Homo sapiens: one gene and its partner. The protein of the gene in region 1 interacts with the protein of each later gene in a biochemical or structural test. Each region holds a gene or a part of one and is shown in the gene's direction. Other genes may lie near its edges.

The links.
Region 2: the proteins of COL6A2 (region 1) and SIRPA form a complex in vitro, tested with the Homo sapiens proteins (one large-scale study listed by BioGRID).

The regions. Positions count from the first base shown.
Region 1 is NC_000021.9:46,128,803-46,132,711, forward strand, and holds part of COL6A2 (collagen alpha-2(VI) chain isoform 2C2 precursor), read left to right. Parts: intron 1-100; coding exon of another isoform or gene 101-126; exon of another isoform or gene 127-393; coding exon of another isoform or gene 394-689; exon of another isoform or gene 690-999; intron 1,000-3,151; coding exon 3,152-3,750; 3' UTR 3,751-3,909. UniProt on the Homo sapiens protein: Collagen VI acts as a cell-binding protein.
Region 2 is NC_000020.11:1,919,208-1,923,016, forward strand, and holds part of SIRPA (tyrosine-protein phosphatase non-receptor type substrate 1 isoform 1 precursor), read left to right. Parts: intron 1-2,187; coding exon 2,188-2,505; intron 2,506-3,105; coding exon 3,106-3,438; intron 3,439-3,809. UniProt on the Homo sapiens protein: Immunoglobulin-like cell surface receptor for CD47. Acts as docking protein and induces translocation of PTPN6, PTPN11 and other binding partners from the cytosol to the plasma membrane.

The DNA.
Region 1 (3,909 bases):
AGCTTTCTCAGGCGGGCTCTTGAGGGGTGGCTGGGGTCTTCCTGGCGACGGGCCTGCGGCACTGGAAGCCCTACTGGAGTTTGGCCTGTCTCCGGCACAGGTTTGGACGGAGCTGTTTTGTGCTGAAAGGTTTTCTCGGGGTCCGTGGTGTCCCCCAAAGGTGCCACCGTGCGGGTCTCCTAGCTCCCTGCCAGCTTCCTGTCCCTGTGCTCACTGCCCCCACGCCTCCTGCCAAGGCCGAGCCACACACCCGCTCCACCTGCATTTCCTCTACCGACTCGCCAGCCCAAATGCCGCTCTTCACTCTGGCCTCGCTGAGCGGCTGCCCGAGGAGGAGCTCTAGGCCGACGCCCACCGCAGGCCTTACAGTCTTCTCTGGACGCTCCCTTGCAGATGCACCGTGGCCTGGCGGCGAGCCCCCGGTCACCTTCCTCCGCACGGAAGAGGGGCCGGACGCCACCTTCCCCAGGACCATTCCCCTGATCCAACAGTTGCTAAACGCCACGGAGCTCACGCAGGACCCGGCCGCCTACTCCCAGCTGGTGGCCGTGCTGGTCTACACCGCCGAGCGGGCCAAGTTCGCCACCGGGGTAGAGCGGCAGGACTGGATGGAGCTGTTCATTGACACCTTTAAGCTGGTGCACAGGGACATCGTGGGGGACCCCGAGACCGCGCTGGCCCTCTGCTAAAGCCCGGGCACCCGCCCAGCCGGGCTGGGCCCTCCCTGCCACACTAGCTTCCCAGGGCTGCCCCCGACAGGCTGGCTCTCAGTGGAGGCCAGAGATCTGGAATCGGGGTCAGCGGGGCTACAGTCCTTCCAGGGGCTCTGGGGCAGCTCCCAGCCTCTTCCCATGCTGGTGGCCACCGTGTCCCTTGCTGCGGCTGCATCTTCCAGTCTCTCCTCCGTCTTCCTGTGGCCGCTCTCTTTATAAGAACCCTGGTCATTGAATTTAAGGCCCACCCCAAGTCCAGAATGACCTCGCAAGACCCTTAACTCACTCCCGTCTGCAGAGTCCTTCTTTGCTGCATCAGGTCACCCTCACAGGCTCCAGGGTTTGGGTGTGGAAGTCTTTGGAGGCCCTTACTTAGCGGCCCAGCTGGGCTGCCGTGCGTCTGGGATGGGGCTGAGGGAGGGTGCTGCCCAGGTGCTGGAGGATGTTCCAGCACCAGGTTCCAGCGGAGCCTCGGAAACAGGCCCCAGAGGCTGGTGAGCCTCGCTGGGTGTGGGCACTAATCCCGTGCATGGTGACTCGTGGGCGCTCACGGCCCACCTGGTGGCAGGTGAAGGCTTCCGGTTGGGCAGCAGATAGTCCTGGGGGAAGCTGGCAGTCCTGGCACCATGACGTATCTGGGCTGGTGTCATGCACAGTAGGGCGAATGGCCACAGCTGCCTGCCAGCAGCCCTGATCCCGGGGTGTCTGCACCCTTCCAGCCCAACCTCTGGGTCTCCAAAAGCACAGTCGGGGGAGCATCCACCAGGCACAACCTCTGCGGTCCTCAGAGGACTGAGCAGAGAATCCCAGGGTCCACAATGTTGGGGAGCGGCAGGGATCACCATCCAAAGGGAGCGGCCCCCACGGCGAGCTGACCCCGACGTTCTGACTGCAGGAGCCCTCATCCAGGCTGGGCTCCTGCCGGGCACGGCTGTGACCATTTCTCAGGGCCAGGTTCTCGTCCCCACACCCACTGCACAGGGCAGGCCAGGCTGGTCTTCCCACTGTGGGGATGAAGGATCCTCCACAGGAGGAGGAGAGCAGAGTCCACAGACATCCCAACAGCCTCAGCCTCCCTGTGCCTGGCCGGCCCCCACAGCTTCCCCGTCTCCTCCAGGCCCCACAGACACTGATGAATGGACAGAGACCCCCAAAACCAGCTGCCCCTTGCATGTCTGTCTCCATATGTTTGGTGACAGCAGTGAAAATGTTATTAGTTTTGAGGGGGTTTGGGAAGCCCAGCGGTACCTGAGGAGTTTCTGGACATTTAAGCCGGTTCCTAGGTGTGGCCTTAACAGGGAGGCTGCCCTTCCTTTCACTGAATGAGCTGCGTCACTCATAAGCTCACTGAGGGAACCCCATCTGCCAGCTCGTGCGTGCTCAGACGGCGTCCATGTCTCAAGCGTTCTGTGAAGGCTGCGGTGCAGCGTGAGGTCACCCTGCTGTGTTCAGAGCTTTGCTCACTGCCTGCGGGGCTGGACCGTTGCACCTCCAGGGCCCCCAGAAACCGAGTTTCGGGTCAGGGTCCTCTGTGTGCATTCCTGGGGGTCCATGTACCAGCTGTGACGACGTCCAGGGGTTGGGCTGAGAAGCAGACACCCTTGGGGAAACTGGCTCTGTCCCTCCCCTCCCCCATCCCAGGAGCTGAGGTCTTGGTGAGGCCACAGGGCCAGGTCCACGCAAGGACTGTCCGTGTCCTGTCCTGTGGTCTCTGGCCCCACGTGACACCCACACGTGTGGTAGGCAGCCTGGCCTGGGTTGTGGCTATGGCCAGGCCCCCAAGCTGTCCCCGATGCCCAGGGCTGGTGACCACCCAGGCAGGTGGGGGCCCCACTTGGTAACAGAGTCATAGGGCAGAACCCACCTGGGCTGCCACAGAAGGTCTGGCTGCCCCTGTGCCCACTGCTCCCCACCATGGCCAATCAGAAGAGTCAGGGGCTCCTGGTCTTTCCGGGAGGGACGTGGCCCAGCCAGCTCTAGGTGTTCTGAGCAGCTCTGGGACCCAGCGATTGAGGGGTCAGGCTGGGGGTGTCAGAGCCAGGGTCCTCCTTAAGTACCTCCCACACTACACAGACAGTGGCCCTTTTGTGGGCAGCAAATTCTTGAGCCATGAAAGGATGCTTTGGGCCCCTTCCCTCCCAGGAGGGCAGCCTGTGCAGGGATGGTGCTCAGCAGGTGGACAGGGCCTGGGGCCTGTGTCAGGGTCTCAGGCCTGGGAGCACCAGCAGAGGAGATGGCGGCTCCCAGCAGTGCCGCCTGAAAGTGTCTTGGGCTAAGGACCCACACCCAGGGCTGCCCTGCAGAAACGCCCCCGCAGAGCCCAGTGGTCTGTGAGGTTGCAGGCAGGGTGCGAATGGAAGGGCACAGGTGCGGGGCTGGCACCTGCCCGGTCCTGCCCACCTCCCCTCCGCCCAGCCCGCACCTGCGTCTCCCCACAGAGCTGTCCGTGGCACAGTGCACGCAGCGGCCCGTGGACATCGTCTTCCTGCTGGACGGCTCCGAGCGGCTGGGTGAGCAGAACTTCCACAAGGCCCGGCGCTTCGTGGAGCAGGTGGCGCGGCGGCTGACGCTGGCCCGGAGGGACGACGACCCTCTCAACGCACGCGTGGCGCTGCTGCAGTTTGGTGGCCCCGGCGAGCAGCAGGTGGCCTTCCCGCTGAGCCACAACCTCACGGCCATCCACGAGGCGCTGGAGACCACACAATACCTGAACTCCTTCTCGCACGTGGGCGCAGGCGTGGTGCACGCCATCAATGCCATCGTGCGCAGCCCGCGTGGCGGGGCCCGGAGGCACGCAGAGCTGTCCTTCGTGTTCCTCACGGACGGCGTCACGGGCAACGACAGTCTGCACGAGTCGGCGCACTCCATGCGCAAGCAGAACGTGGTACCCACCGTGCTGGCCTTGGGCAGCGACGTGGACATGGACGTGCTCACCACGCTCAGCCTGGGTGACCGCGCCGCCGTGTTCCACGAGAAGGACTATGACAGCCTGGCGCAACCCGGCTTCTTCGACCGCTTCATCCGCTGGATCTGCTAGCGCCGCCGCCCGGGCCCCGCAGTCGAGGGTCGTGAGCCCACCCCGTCCATGGTGCTAAGCGGGCCCGGGTCCCACACGGCCAGCACCGCTGCTCACTCGGACGACGCCCTGGGCCTGCACCTCTCCAGCTCCTCCCACGGGGTCCCCGTAGCCCCGGCC
Region 2 (3,809 bases), on another chromosome or scaffold:
GGGAAACATTGAAATAAATCCCAGGCTCCACCACAGAAATGCCTCTTCAATTGGCCTGGCATGGGCCTAGGCATCTAAAGTTTTTAATTAATCCAGAAGATTCTAATACAGAGTCAGGACTGAAAACCCCTGGGATAGACACCCAGAGGTCACGGAGGACAAGTTGGAAAAGATGGTCCTCTTGGGGTGCCAGATGGGAGAACAGCTTTTCAGGGTGTGGATGCTTCTGAACAACGTGCACCCGGGACAGCTCTTTGGAGGCCCCAGTGGCCTGGCCAGACCCCCTCTTATGATACAGGCCTCGGGGGCCAAGGTAGGGGCCCCAGACAAAGCCCTGCTCAGATCCAGCCTCAGTGTGGGGAAACCTTCCATCCTGAAAATGTTTTTGTCTAAATGACCGCCGGAATCCCAGCAAATCCTTCCAATTCGGCCCCAGAACCCTCCCTGCCTCGACACACCAAGATGTCACGGAGGAGTCTGTTCCCTCCTCCTTTAAAATGCTTCCAGCTTCTGTAAATGGCTCTTCTGGAGGGAGGCGCCTGTGATCTTGTGTTTTGAAAGCCAATTCGCCAAACTTGTTTCCTGAGGGGATTGTTTAGAAAAGGGGAGAGAATCCTCACTTGGTGGTTTCTGCTCCTTGTATCATTTGGGTTTGTCATGAGCCACAGGGAGCAGGGTTTGAGCCTTTTCTTGGTGTTTCTGCTCTGCTTTGTTCTGCTGCCTGAAGGATAAATGTGTAGATTCGGAAGCAGTAATGACCAGACCTCCTGATAACAGTCACAGGGGTCATTTATTAAGCACCTGCTGCATACCAGGCTCTGTGCTTGCATTCATCCTCCCTCTTCTTAACAGGGTGGGGTTTGTATCCACTTTTGGCCCTGGGCCTCTCTGAGCTTTGTCCTAAAAGGGGCTCACACGAGGATCCCCTCACAGAGATGGAGTGAGGATTAAAGAGCTGACGGGCATGGAGGGAGCAGCCAGTGTCCAGCTCCAGAGAAGCCCTGGATAAATGGGAACTGATTGCAGCCCCTCAGCCCTGTGGGGACATCCAGGCCGCTGGCCTCAATGACTTGACTTCTTCAAGTGACACCCTCCTTACTGTGCCCTCAAAATGTTTGATGGGTGTGAGGGAGAAGTTAATATTTACAAATGCAAGTATGTGTGATATGTGCTTCCTGGTGACTGCGATAGGAGGTATGGGGTAATGATTAGCAATTTGGAGACACGTTTACGACCCATCTGCAGGGAGAAACAGCCCGCGTTCTGATTCAGCCATGTGTGTGCTTTCAGGACCCAGGAAGTGCTTCTGCCTGCTTGGGCGCCCTGTGTCTGTGTAATTAATTGATAATTAACCACTTTGGCTTTCTCCACACTTGGTGATCTTTAGTGTCTATCTAAAACTGACACCAAAGAAGACCGCAGATTCAGAAAAGTATCCCTTCCTTTCAAATTTAGCACTTGGCACAGATTAGACCCTGCTGGAATATTTGTGGAGAAAATGAAAAATATGAAGTAAATTCATAAATACCTGAAGAGAGAGCTTTGGATATGAATAAAGTCTGGGTTAAAGTTAGATCTGTTTTTGCTTATTTTTGTGAAGCATCTTCTGTGTTTATCCAAAGCAAAACTGCTTCTGTTGCCTCATTTAATCCTCGCTGCATCCCAGAAAGGAGAAATGCTGCTGTTCCATTTTACAGACAAGGAGCTGGGTGTGCCAGGCCGCCCCTCTCATGGGCTGAGCGGCCTGGTTCCAGCTCTCATGGTGATGCCACGTTGCTGCTTACTCCCTGCACTGACCTCTATAAACGCTCTCTCTGAGGTTGGCACTGTTGCCAGGGGAGGCAGGGTAGAAACAGTTAATACCAAGGATGAGATGGATCGTTAATTTTGATCCTGTGCCCAAATTGCTGGAAGTCACCCTGTGTGGAGTGGAGAAGTTTGAACTCAGGCCTGGACTTCCCTCTGGGCCCTGCCCCTACACTGTCTGACCTCACATGGGTCCTCACCTCTCCCAACCTTTGCATCCTGCTCTGTAAAATGACAATAAGGACACCGCCCTCATTAATCCTTCCACATTATTGGAAGGATAAAAAATAATGTCTCAGAAGGTTCTTAACGTGTCACACACTTATCGTTAGTGATTGTCATCTGAGTCATGTCTCCTGATTATCGATGGTCCTTTTGTAGCCAAACCCTCTGCCCCCGTGGTATCGGGCCCTGCGGCGAGGGCCACACCTCAGCACACAGTGAGCTTCACCTGCGAGTCCCACGGCTTCTCACCCAGAGACATCACCCTGAAATGGTTCAAAAATGGGAATGAGCTCTCAGACTTCCAGACCAACGTGGACCCCGTAGGAGAGAGCGTGTCCTACAGCATCCACAGCACAGCCAAGGTGGTGCTGACCCGCGAGGACGTTCACTCTCAAGTCATCTGCGAGGTGGCCCACGTCACCTTGCAGGGGGACCCTCTTCGTGGGACTGCCAACTTGTCTGAGACCATCCGAGGTAGAAGACCCTCACCCAGCCCAAGCCCACACCTGACCGCCAAGCCCACCCCCCACCACCCTCCACTCATCCAGCTCTACTCTTGCTCCAGGGCTTGAAATGCCTGGAACCTAAATTCCTAACTGCCCACCTCCCATGCCCCTAGATGTGCCAGCCACTTACTAACATTTTAATGGCAGTGGCTGGGTGACCACACCACCCACCAGGTGCCAAGGACTGTGCTAGCCGTTTCATTTATTTCACTGATAGCAAACACAGTTAATGAGTACCTACTATGAACTAAGCCTCTATGTGCTTGGTGATTTTCTTTATTTTGCTACAGTTACAACATTCCAACTGCATGCCAGGGGTGGTGCTTATAGATTTCCCTCATTCTTAGCCTAGTAGGAGCTACCAGTCCTTGAGCACCTACTGTGTGCTGGGCGTTGTGCTTAGTAATTTCATTCATATGCAAAGAGCACCCTCAATGTCTGAGCACCTGATGCCTGCCTAGCTCTGTCCTGGTGATGACCTCACCGTGGTGGGGGAGCTACGTTATGGAGCCCTCCCTGTGATCTGTCTGTGCCACAAGGTCAGAGCTTCTGCCCTGTGCTGTTTCAGTTCCACCCACCTTGGAGGTTACTCAACAGCCCGTGAGGGCAGAGAACCAGGTGAATGTCACCTGCCAGGTGAGGAAGTTCTACCCCCAGAGACTACAGCTGACCTGGTTGGAGAATGGAAACGTGTCCCGGACAGAAACGGCCTCAACCGTTACAGAGAACAAGGATGGTACCTACAACTGGATGAGCTGGCTCCTGGTGAATGTATCTGCCCACAGGGATGATGTGAAGCTCACCTGCCAGGTGGAGCATGACGGGCAGCCAGCGGTCAGCAAAAGCCATGACCTGAAGGTCTCAGCCCACCCGAAGGAGCAGGGCTCAAATACCGCCGCTGGTGAGGCCTCTATTTCAGCTGACCCAGCTTTTTTAAACTTTTAGTTTTGTGGGTTTTTTAAATGTTAAAAGTAGTAATTCATGCTTATTATAGAACAATCTAGAAGTCTATAAATATAAAGTAGAATTTTAATGTCAGCTCCATTTCCCCAAATCCCACACTCCAAGAGTCACCACTGGTAAGAGTTTGATGCACATCTTGATAGATCTTTTGACATAGATTTATATCACAGGAGGAAAGAGGGAGAGAGGGGGCCCATCTGTTCATGGTGTCCTGCCTCTTGCCTTCTTCACCTGACAGTTGTCATGCTCCCCATTCCTCACTGGCCCAGCCCCTCTTCCCTACTCTTTCTAGCCCCTGCCTCATCTCCC